Regions from separate parts of the Homo sapiens genome. Here all the other regions are reported to be linked to region 1. Evidence: microRNA targets listed by miRTarBase, many of them from high-throughput screens and not tested one by one. Region 1 holds a microRNA gene; each other region holds the end of a gene's coding sequence. Distances are between the middles of the regions.
What was found. Region 1 holds the annotated microRNA hsa-miR-3187-5p (CCUGGGCAGCGUGUGGCUGAAGG, at 1,852-1,874, shown strand). A microRNA usually pairs through its seed, bases 2 to 8, with sites in the 3' UTR of a target mRNA and lowers its output. Matches are read on the target gene's strand: a 7mer-m8 pairs with bases 2 to 8, a 7mer-A1 pairs with bases 2 to 7 and ends in A, and an 8mer does both.

Region 1 (3,000 bases):
GGGGCGGGCGTGTCGCCGCCTCTGGCATCGCCTCCGGTTGCCTTACACCACGCCTTCACCTGCAGTCGCCTAGAAAACTTGCTCTCAAACTTCAGGGTTTTTTCTTCCTTCAAATTTTGGACCAAAGTCTCATTTCTGTGTTTTGCCTGCCTCTGATGCTGGGACCCGGAAGGCGGGCGCTCCTCCTGTCTTCTCTGTGCTCTTTCTACCGCCCCCGCGTCCTGTCCCGGGGGCTCTCCTAGGATCCCCTTTCCGTAAAAGCGTGTAACAAGGGTGTAAATATTTATAATTTTTTATACCTGTTGTGAGACCCGAGGGGCGGCGGCGCGGTTTTTTATGGTGACACAAATGTATATTTTGCTAACAGCAATTCCAGGCTCAGTATTGTGACCGCGGAGCCACAGGGGACCCCACGCACATTCCGTTGCCTTACCCGATGGCTTGTGACGCGGAGAGAACCGATTAAAACCGTTTGAGAAACTCCTCCCTTGTCTAGCCCTGTGTTCGCTGTGGACGCTGTAGAGGCAGGTTGGCCAGTCTGTACCTGGACTTCGAATAAATCTTCTGTATCCTCGCTCCGTTCCGCCTTCGTTGCTGGCTTCCTCTTTCTGTGCCGCGGGCGGCCCCGACTCCCGCCCGGGTGTCCGCCGAAGCGCCAGGTGGGGCCACGGGCGGGGTGGGCCCGGCCCTGAGAGTGGGGGTCCCTGCGTGGGGCGTGCGGGCCAGAGCGAATGACCAAGAGCCGGACCTCGGTTTCTGCCGCTTTATTGAGCATCCGCGCGGCCGCCCGCGCCCTCGGCCCGCCCCCCGCCCGCCCCCGGCCCCGCCGCGCTAGTCGGGGAAGCGGCGCGCCTGCATCTTGCGGAAGTAGCCCTCGGCCTCCGCCTCCGCCTCGCGCTCCGCCAGCCCCAGGCCGCCCGCGTGGCGCCGCAGCGTGGACTCCCGGCTGCCCGGGCCCAGCGCCCCATCGGCCGCGCCCAGCGGGGGCAGCCCCTCGCCCGTGGCCAGGTTGACGGTGGCCACGGCCCCGAACCGCGGCTCCTCCTGGTCCACGTCGCTGACCGACGAGCCGGGGGACACGCCCGGGGGCTTGGCCCCGCCGCGGAAGCCGCGCGCCAGGTCCCCCAGCTCGTAGCCGCCGTCGGCCTCCGCCTTGGCCCCGCCGCCCGCCGCCTTCCACTCCCAGGGCGCGCCGCCGGCCGACAGGTGCACCACGGGGTGGTGCGGCGCGTGCGCGTCGATGGTCACGATGCTGGCGGAGTCGCGGTCCGACGGCGACCGGTACTGCGAGGAGTCGGAGCTGGCGCTGGACGACGACGCCGTCTCGGCCGCCTTGGGGCCCGGCGCGCCCGGAGCCTTGGACATGGCGATGACCTGCAGCAGCCGCGGAGGGTTGGCCACTGCCGCCCCGCTCTTCTCGGCCATCATGAGCCACTTGGCGCGCACCCCGGCGCCGCTTTTGGGGGACAGGCCGGCCCCCGTCTGCGCGCCCTCCTCCGGGATGTGCACCAGCGGCGGCGGCCCCGCGCGCGGTGGGAGGATGACCCGAGGCCCCAGCCCCGGCCGCGCCTGCACGGTGGGGTAGAGCGAGGGCGGGGCCGGGCCCTCGTCCTCCTCCTCTTCCTCCTCCTCCTCTTCCTCTTCGTCCTCCTCCTCTTCCTCCTCCTCCGCCATGGGTTCGGCGGGCGCGCGCAGGTGCCCGGGGCTGGCGTCGTCGGGCAGCCCCAGGCCGCGGCCCTCCAGGCTCTTCTGCTTCCACTCGCTGATGAGCTGCTTGGAGCGCGAGGCGTCCAGCGGCACGTGGATGGTCATGTGGCGGCGCGCGGGGTCGTCCAGCGAGGGCGCGCTGGCCCTGGGCAGCGTGTGGCTGAAGGTCACCATGTTCTCCTTGGCCATGGGGCTGCGCGGGGCCAGCAGGTCCACGTCCACGCTGGCGCGCTTCAGGCTGCCCAGCGAGGTCTTCTCGCGGGCCACGGGCCGGGGCGCGCCCTCCAGCCGCCCTGGGGGCCCCAGCTCGTCGGTGCTCACCGACTTATTCTGCTGATAAACCGAGTCGTGGCCCCGCTGCGTCAGGGCCCGCAGCGCGTCCTTGGCGGGGGCCGGGGCCGCGGGCTTCTCTGCAGGTGGGGCCTGGAAGTTGCCCACCGCGTGGCAGGCCTGTCGGGGAGAGGGGTCTGGGGGTGAGGCCTGGGGCTCAGAGGGCTCCTCCCCTGTGATCGTTGGACTTGCCGCGGGGGGCTCTGGACCGGGGGTGGGGGCTGGCAAGCTCTTGTCCAGTGGGACCGGTTCCCACCCCAAGGTTGCTGACCCAGCACATCGGGCAGGTCTGAGCCCACGGGATTCTGACTCCAGCATTCCAAGGGCGAGACACTTCAGCACCCATGCCTTCCCCCTAAGACCCCTTCGGGACCCACGTCTATCCCCTCAGACACCCTGGGCACCCGTGCCTCCCCCCTAGAGCCCCTGGGCACCCATGCCTCCCCCCTCAGACCCTCTGGGCCAGCCCCCCGCCAGAACCCCTGGGAACCATGCCTCACCCCTCAGGCTACCAGCCTCCCCTGTCAGACCCCCTGAGCCTGCCTCCCACCTCAGACCCCTGGGCCAGCCTCCCCACTCAGGCCCTGTGGGCACTCATGCCTCCCCCCTCAGATCCCCTGGGAACCCATGCCGACCCCCATCAGAACCTGCCACTCACCAGGTAGGCAGCGATGCCCGCCCCGATGAGGAAGCCGGCATACACGTCCACAGGGTGGCTGCGGTACTGCGTGATCTGCGTGAGCCCGCATACGCCCGCGGCGATGGCAAAGGCGAAGACCAGGATGGGCTTCAGCAGCTTGGTGGTGTCCGAGATGACCGAGTTGAAGTACATCTGGGGCATGGGGGTTGGGGTCAGGGAGGGCTCCCCACGGGTCAGCAAGAGGGCCTGGGAAGGGCAGTGAGGGGCCGGACTCACCGACACATAGACCGCGGCGAAGGCTGACAGCGTGGCGTGCTGGGACG
Region 2 (3,351 bases), 32 Mb from region 1:
TAAGCATTGGTCACCTGAGTTTCCGAATTATGTCTGTTCAATTTATTTTTTGGAGACAGAATCCTGCTCTGTCACCCAGGTTGGAGTGCAGTGGTGTGATCTCAGCTCACTGCAACCTCCACCTCCTGGGTTCAAGTGATTCTTGTGCCCAGGCTCCAAGCAGCTGGGACTACAGACATCCACCACCACACCTGGTTAATTTTTGTATTTTAGTAGAGATGGGGTTTCACCATGTTGGCCAGGCTGGTCTTGAACTCCTGACCTCAAGTGATCCGCCTTCCTCGGCCTCCCAAACTGTTGGGATTACAGGTGTGAGCCACCGCGCCTGGCCAAACTTCGTAGTTTTTATCATCTATCTTGATGATGCCTGACGCCCTTTTTCTTACTTTTCTATGTGCAGCATAATAAGAGTGCCACATACTCCGTGGGAATGCAGAAAACGTACTCCATGATCTGCTTAGCCATTGATGATGACGACAAAACTGATAAAACCAAGAAAATCTCCAAGAAGCTTTCCTTCCTGAGTTGGGGCACCAACAAGAACAGACAGAAGTCAGCCAGCACCTTGTGCCTCCCATCGGTCGGGGCTGCACGGCCTCAGGTCAAGAAGAAGCTGCCCTCCCCTTTCAGCCTTCTCAACTCAGACAGTTCTTGGTACTAATGTGAGGAAACAAACATGTTCAGGCCCTGAACATTTCCGGTGCTGACTCGGCCTTAAACGTTTGTGCCATAATGGAAAATATCTATCTATCTGTTCTCAAATCCTGTTTTTCTCATAGTGTAAACTCACATTTGATGTGTTTTTATGAAGGAAAGTAACCAAGAAACCTCTAGGAATTAGTGAAAAAAGAACTTTTTTGAGGTGTGTTACTATACTGCTGTAAGTTATTTATTATATAAAGTATTGTAAATAGAATAGTGTTGAAGATATGAAATATGGCTATTTTTAATGGTGACAATTATGACTTTTAGTCACTATTAAATTGGGGTTACCTATATCAGTACAATTTGTAGTTGTTTCCAGGTTTGGCTAATAATCATTCCTTAACCTAGAATTCAGATGATCCTGGAATTAAGGCAGGTCAGAGGACTGTAATGATAGAATTAAATTAGTGTCACTAAAAACTGTCCCAAAGTGCTGCTTCCTAATAGGAATTCATTAACCTAAAACAAGATGTTACTATTATATCGATAGACTATGAATGCTATTTCTAGAAAAAGTCTAGTGCCAAATTTGTCTTATTAAATAAAAACAATGTAGGAGCAGCTTTTCTTCTAGTTTGATGTCATTTAAGAATTACTAACACAGTGGCAGTGTTAGATGAAGATGCTGTCTACAAGGTAGATAATATACTGTTTGATACTCAAAACATTTTTCATTTTGTTTAAAGTAGAAGTTACATAATTCTATATTTTAAGTCTTGGGTAAAAAAGTAGTTTTACATTTTATAAAGTAAAGATGTAAATGATTCAGGTTTAAAGCTCTATTTGACTTCCTTTTTTTGTTTGAGATAGCGTCTTGCTGTGTTGCCCAGGCTGGAGTGCAGTGGTGTGATCTCAGCTCAGTGCAACCTCCGCCCCCTGGGATCAAGCGATTCTCCTACCTCAGCCTCCCAAATAGCTGGGACTACAAGGTGCCCTCCAGCATGCCTGGCTGATTTTTGTATTTTTAGTTGAGGTGAGGTTTCACCATGTTGGCCAGGCGGGTTTCGAAATCCTGACCTCAAATGATCCACCCACCTCAGCCTCCCAAAGTGCTGGGATTACAGGCATGAGCCACCACAACCGTCCCACTATTTTACTTTTTAAAATGACATTCCTACTGATTGATTTTTATCTTGCTATAAGTTCGATGACACCGTGAATCTAATAAGGTTCACTGTTGACACAGTACAAGTTACATAGCTAAAATACATAGCATTGAAGACTAATTTTAAGGATTGACAAGAGTTTATTTTCTATTGTGCAATATCTTAAAGGAAGCAACCACCTTTGGGAAAGTGTATCTGCTGCTCCTAGGGCCATGCTTGTATACATATTTAAATAAACATATTCATTTACCCGAGTTAATATTTCTTTTTACTTTTATTTCATTTTCATTCCCTCCTCTTTCAAATTGTTTCTCCCCAATGCACACAGTTTCTAATGTTCTGATTTTTTTAGTTACTAACATTTCACAAAGCAGAACTTAAAAAGCTGTCAAGTTATCTTAGTATTTTCTAAGACAGATGGTATCTTTGTGCTTATTTTTTGTTTTTGTCTTTTTTTCAAGACAGGGTCTCGCTTTGTCACCCAGGCAGGAGGACAGTGGCGCAATTGTGGCTCATGGCAGCCTCAACCTTCCGGGCTCAAGCAATCCTCCCACCTCACCCTCCTGAGTAGCTGGGACTACAGGCATGAGCCACCATGCCTGGCTAATTTTTTTGATTTTTTTGTAGAGATGGGGTCTTGCCATGTTGCCCAGGCTGATCTCGAAATCCTGGACTCAAGCAATCCTCCCACCTCAGCCTCCCAAAGTGCTGGGACTACAGGTGTGAGCCACTGTGCCTGGCCTGTGTCTATTTTTTGAATGGGCAATTTGTACCTTTTGATCCCCAGCCCCTGCTTCCCTCACTAGATGCAGCTGCTGCCATCATTTTCTTGTATCCTTCCATTGTTGGGCCTTTCATATACAAACACAGCCTGTTCTGCCTCATGCATGTTGAGTTTTCAACTTTAAATTTTTTTTTTTTTTTTTTGAGATGGAGTCTCACTCTGTCATCCAGGCTGGAGTGCAGTGGTGCAATCTCGGCCCATTGCAACCTCCACCTCCTGGGTTCAAGCGATTCTCGTGCCTCAGTCTCCTGAGTAGTTGGGATTACAGGTGTGTGCCACCACACCCAGCTAATTTTTGTATTTTTAGTAGAGACAGGGCTTCACCATGTCGGCCAGGATGGTCTGGATCTCCTGACCTTGTGATTCACCCCCCTTGGCCTCCCAAAGTGCTGGGATTACAGGTGTGAGCCACTATGCCCGGCCGTTGAGTTTTCAACTTTAAGTGGGAACTTCAGACTTCATACTTTCTGTGTGCAGAAGACATATGCAGTGATTATAAACAAACTGTACATCTGCCAAAAAAAAAGGCCGGGGGGAGGGAGGAACAAAGGAAAGGAGGAAGGAACTGTTGCGCAGTTATTTATTTACATTGGAAACAGCCCTCGCAGTACGGGTATATGAAGGCCAGACCTGATGAACAGCAGGTGAAACTCTGGGAACCCAGGGCTTAGGATACACAGTGCTTCCTTGTACATTTGTTTCCTTCAGATGGTCACATCCACCACTGAAGCTTTTTAGAAGGCACTTTCCATGACA
Region 3 (3,351 bases), not on the chromosome of region 1:
ATAAAATTCTAGAATGTTAATTCCTATAGCAAGAACTTGTGACATTATAAAATGTGGTTTACCATAGAAAGTCGCTAGATTTCCCATGTTTTCTTAAAATTAAATGTACTAAAAAATCCAAATGTAATAGAAAAATGCAATCACATAGGTGCTTTAAACAGACATTTCTGAATAACACTGCATTCTAACTCATGAGTACAAAGAAATGTGTATGCTATTTATACATTTTCTTAGTGTTCCCTACCTTTGGACTCCAATCATTTTAACGTATCCGTATACTGGAGATTTGATCACAGTATATGGCACTTCACAATAACATTCCATGTCCTAATAATGTGAAATGCCTGTATACAATCTGAGTATATTGTTTAGTCAGAAAACATCAAAATTAAGGATATAGGACATGGAATGTCTGTTAAGTGCTGAGTTTTTCTGACTAGAGTTTAATCTAGCCAGTGTTAATGTGGAAGCTGTATGCTTTTTTCATGGGCATGTTCGAATTTTTTCTTTCAAAATGTTTCTCAACTTTTTGATGTGACACTTTGTTTTCTCCCAAGTCACTCTAAGGGTTCTATCAACATCTTTCTTTGAAAACAGCCCAAAAACATATTTTTAAAATGAAAAAAAAATTCACAAGAGAATCAAGATTTGGTTTTAATCTATTATTTACATATTTGTAAACTGCTGTTAAAATGCTCTCAAAAATGTTATTTAGGAAGGCACAATTTGGTAGCATCAATTTTTTATTTATAGTTTTTTCTAAACAAGATCCGAAGAAACTTCCACTTTAATTTTCCCCTTGGAGTACTTAAAGTACTTCAAGGTTCAATGTCAAATGCAGATAAAACCCCTTCATTTTCAAACTTACTAAGTGTTAACAATACATTTGATAGTGAGCAGAATATGAAAGTACAGATGTTATCAAAAGAGGAAATTCTTATGATACTAGGTTCAGAGATTAAAGAATTTGAAACAAGGGCTTTCATGACTGGGGAAAATCAAAGCTTTTCTTGAAGGGAGTGGGCTTTTAATACTCGAGCTATTAATTAAATGCAGAAATGAGATAACATAGTTATCCTGAACATCAAAAAAGCAACAGCTAATACAGCTAATGCATTATAAATAATGTATTTCATAACTGAATTAGTAAAGCATGGTTACCACTCTAGGCTAGACACTAATCAGTATAACCATTTGTAGTTTCTAATTTTAAAAAGTTTGGCTTCATATTTAAATTTCATTTTACTATATATATATTACATATATACACACTGTTGTCTGTAACTCAAACTATAATGCTTGTCTGTAAAAAGAAGTTTTTTATTTCAGAGATGCTTAAAAGTCCCACTACTCAACCTTTTTCCTGTTTATAAAAACCAACAATTTTGAAATTACTTCTAGTGTAGAAATGCTCAATGATTCATCCAAAATTTCAAGCCCATATCAGTAGGTAGTTTCTCATAAAGTAATGTGCTGTATTTTCTAATATCATATGGTCAAATACCCTGTTCATTTATGAACATTTTTCATGGGCAAGAGTAACTGAAGACAATGGGATCAAGTTGAATATGTTGCTACTCACTTTGAATACTAAATTGTGCTTGCATCCTAAAAATTAAAATGAGCTGCAGTAAGAATTAGAATATAAACTGTGTTCATTTGTACCATACACTAAAAACTAAAATCCTAAAAATAAGAATGAAAATACCTTACTTGTTCATTGAAAAATGAAAGATGAGAAGCAATAACAATTGGTGACGATTTATTTTTATCTTTTGTTAAAGCTCTGAAATTGTAGTAAATCGCTAACTAAATTGAGGTAGAGGTAGACCCTAATGTTACTCCTTCCATGTGTCAAGTCTCTCACCTTAGGTCTCTAAGGTCACCTATAACTTAAGTCTCTCACCCTTAACTTAAATACATTTTCCCTCTTAGTACATAAGCATGATTCATTTTGGAATGTGTTGTCATGAAAGAAAAATTAAGATCATTCAAATGGTACTTTAAAAATTCTGAACTCCTAGCTAAAAAAATTCTCTTATAAAAATGTACACAAGGGCCGGGTGCGGTGGCTCACGCCTGTAATCCCAACACTTTGGGAGGCCGAGGTGGGTGGATCACCTGAGGTCAGGAGTTCAAGACCAGCCTGGCCAACGTGGCGAAACCCCATTTCTACTAAAAATACAAAAATTAGCCAGACATGTTGGCGCACGCCTGTAATCCCAGCTACTCGGGAAGCTGAGGCAGGAGAATCGCTTAAACCCAGGGGGCGGAGGTTGCAGTGAGCCGAGATTGTGCCATTGCACTCCAGCCTGGGCAACAAGAGTGAAACTCCATCTCAAAAAAACAAAAACAAAAACAAAAACAAACAAACAAAAAACACGCTAATTCAATCTTCCTTTTCTGAGAGTCTCAATTTGGAGAAAAATAATTCAATTTTCTATTTTGCTAGTAAGAAATATATTTGTTTCTCCTCCAATTGTAGAGGAAAACAAGGAAAGAGAAGATGTATGATGCAAACATCAACAGTTTCATAACGAAGACATCAGGAACATAACTAGGAGGGCTGAACATTTTACCATTCCTCCTTGAAGTTTACATATAAGCTTTGATTCATATTAAATTTTCTGCTAAAATAACTACTTCCTTTTCAGACTTCAATTCCATTAAACACACATCTATTTCCATTTTAAATCACATACAAGTGCTATGTGATCAGAGGGATGGGAAACACTAGGTAAGGCCTGGTGGGTGGTAACTTCTTCATGACTAGGTAATGGAATCACCTGTTCAACCTCTAAAGCATTTAAGTCAATGAAAATGTAATCTAGACATCCATGAAAGCCACCAACATAATTTGTGTAAGCAGGTTCACCACAAGCACTTTTCAGCTTGAAGAAATGTGTAAGAGACATATTGCATCTTTCCTCCTCCCCATTGGAAGCCCAGTCTTCATGATCCTCTGGAATGCTGCCATTGATGACAAAATGATACATTCCTGTTGATGGTGTACTATTAAAGTCCCCACAAAATATAACTGGTATGCCAGGATACAGATCACATGAAACATGTCTTATGTGAGCCAAGGCTACTGCCATTTGAATGAGGCGAATATACCCACCTATGAATATAAAAAACATTAATGTAAGTATTTTTTAAAGTTGTCTTTAAGTTAAAAAAGAAAAACTACACAAATTACAGTCTCTGGGTGACGTTCAAGATATGCATTTGTGTAAAACACTTTAAACAACTTTAAGCGTGTTTAAGTCACTTGTGATACCAAATAAAACCTACCTTTAGGATGCCAGTAAAGATGGGTATTAGCAACACATATCCTTTTAGAAGAGTCCT

Region 2: miRTarBase lists RHPN2 as a target of hsa-miR-3187-5p. Seed matches in the 3' UTR shown: 7mer-m8 at 1,529-1,535.
Region 3: miRTarBase lists PDE12 as a target of hsa-miR-3187-5p. Seed matches in the 3' UTR shown: 7mer-m8 at 2,313-2,319.

The regions. Positions count from the first base shown.
Region 1 is chr19:811,739-814,738 of GRCh38, forward strand. MIR3187 (microRNA 3187) reads left to right here and starts at 1,846; the gene lies at 1,846-1,915. It overlaps PTBP1 (polypyrimidine tract binding protein 1), which reads left to right. Exons shown (of 15, transcript NM_002819.5): 15 at 1-574. It overlaps PLPPR3 (phospholipid phosphatase related 3), which reads right to left. Exons shown (of 8, transcript NM_001270366.2): 6 at 2,954-3,000; 7 at 2,696-2,869; 8 at 750-2,157. The coding sequence ends at 832.
Region 2 is chr19:32,977,306-32,980,656 of GRCh38, reverse strand. RHPN2 (rhophilin Rho GTPase binding protein 2) reads left to right here. Exons shown (of 15, transcript NM_033103.5): 15 at 401-2,065. The coding sequence ends at 661. It overlaps FAAP24 (FA core complex associated protein 24), which reads right to left. Exons shown (of 5, transcript NM_152266.5): 5 at 2,428-3,351. Among named protein-coding and RNA genes, the nearest start is that of FAAP24, 6.7 kb to the right of the region's middle.
Region 3 is chr3:57,559,332-57,562,682 of GRCh38, reverse strand. It overlaps PDE12 (phosphodiesterase 12), which reads right to left. Exons shown (of 3, transcript NM_177966.7): 2 at 3,295-3,351; 3 at 1-3,121. The coding sequence ends at 2,679. Among named protein-coding and RNA genes, the nearest start is that of PDE12, 4.7 kb to the right of the region's middle.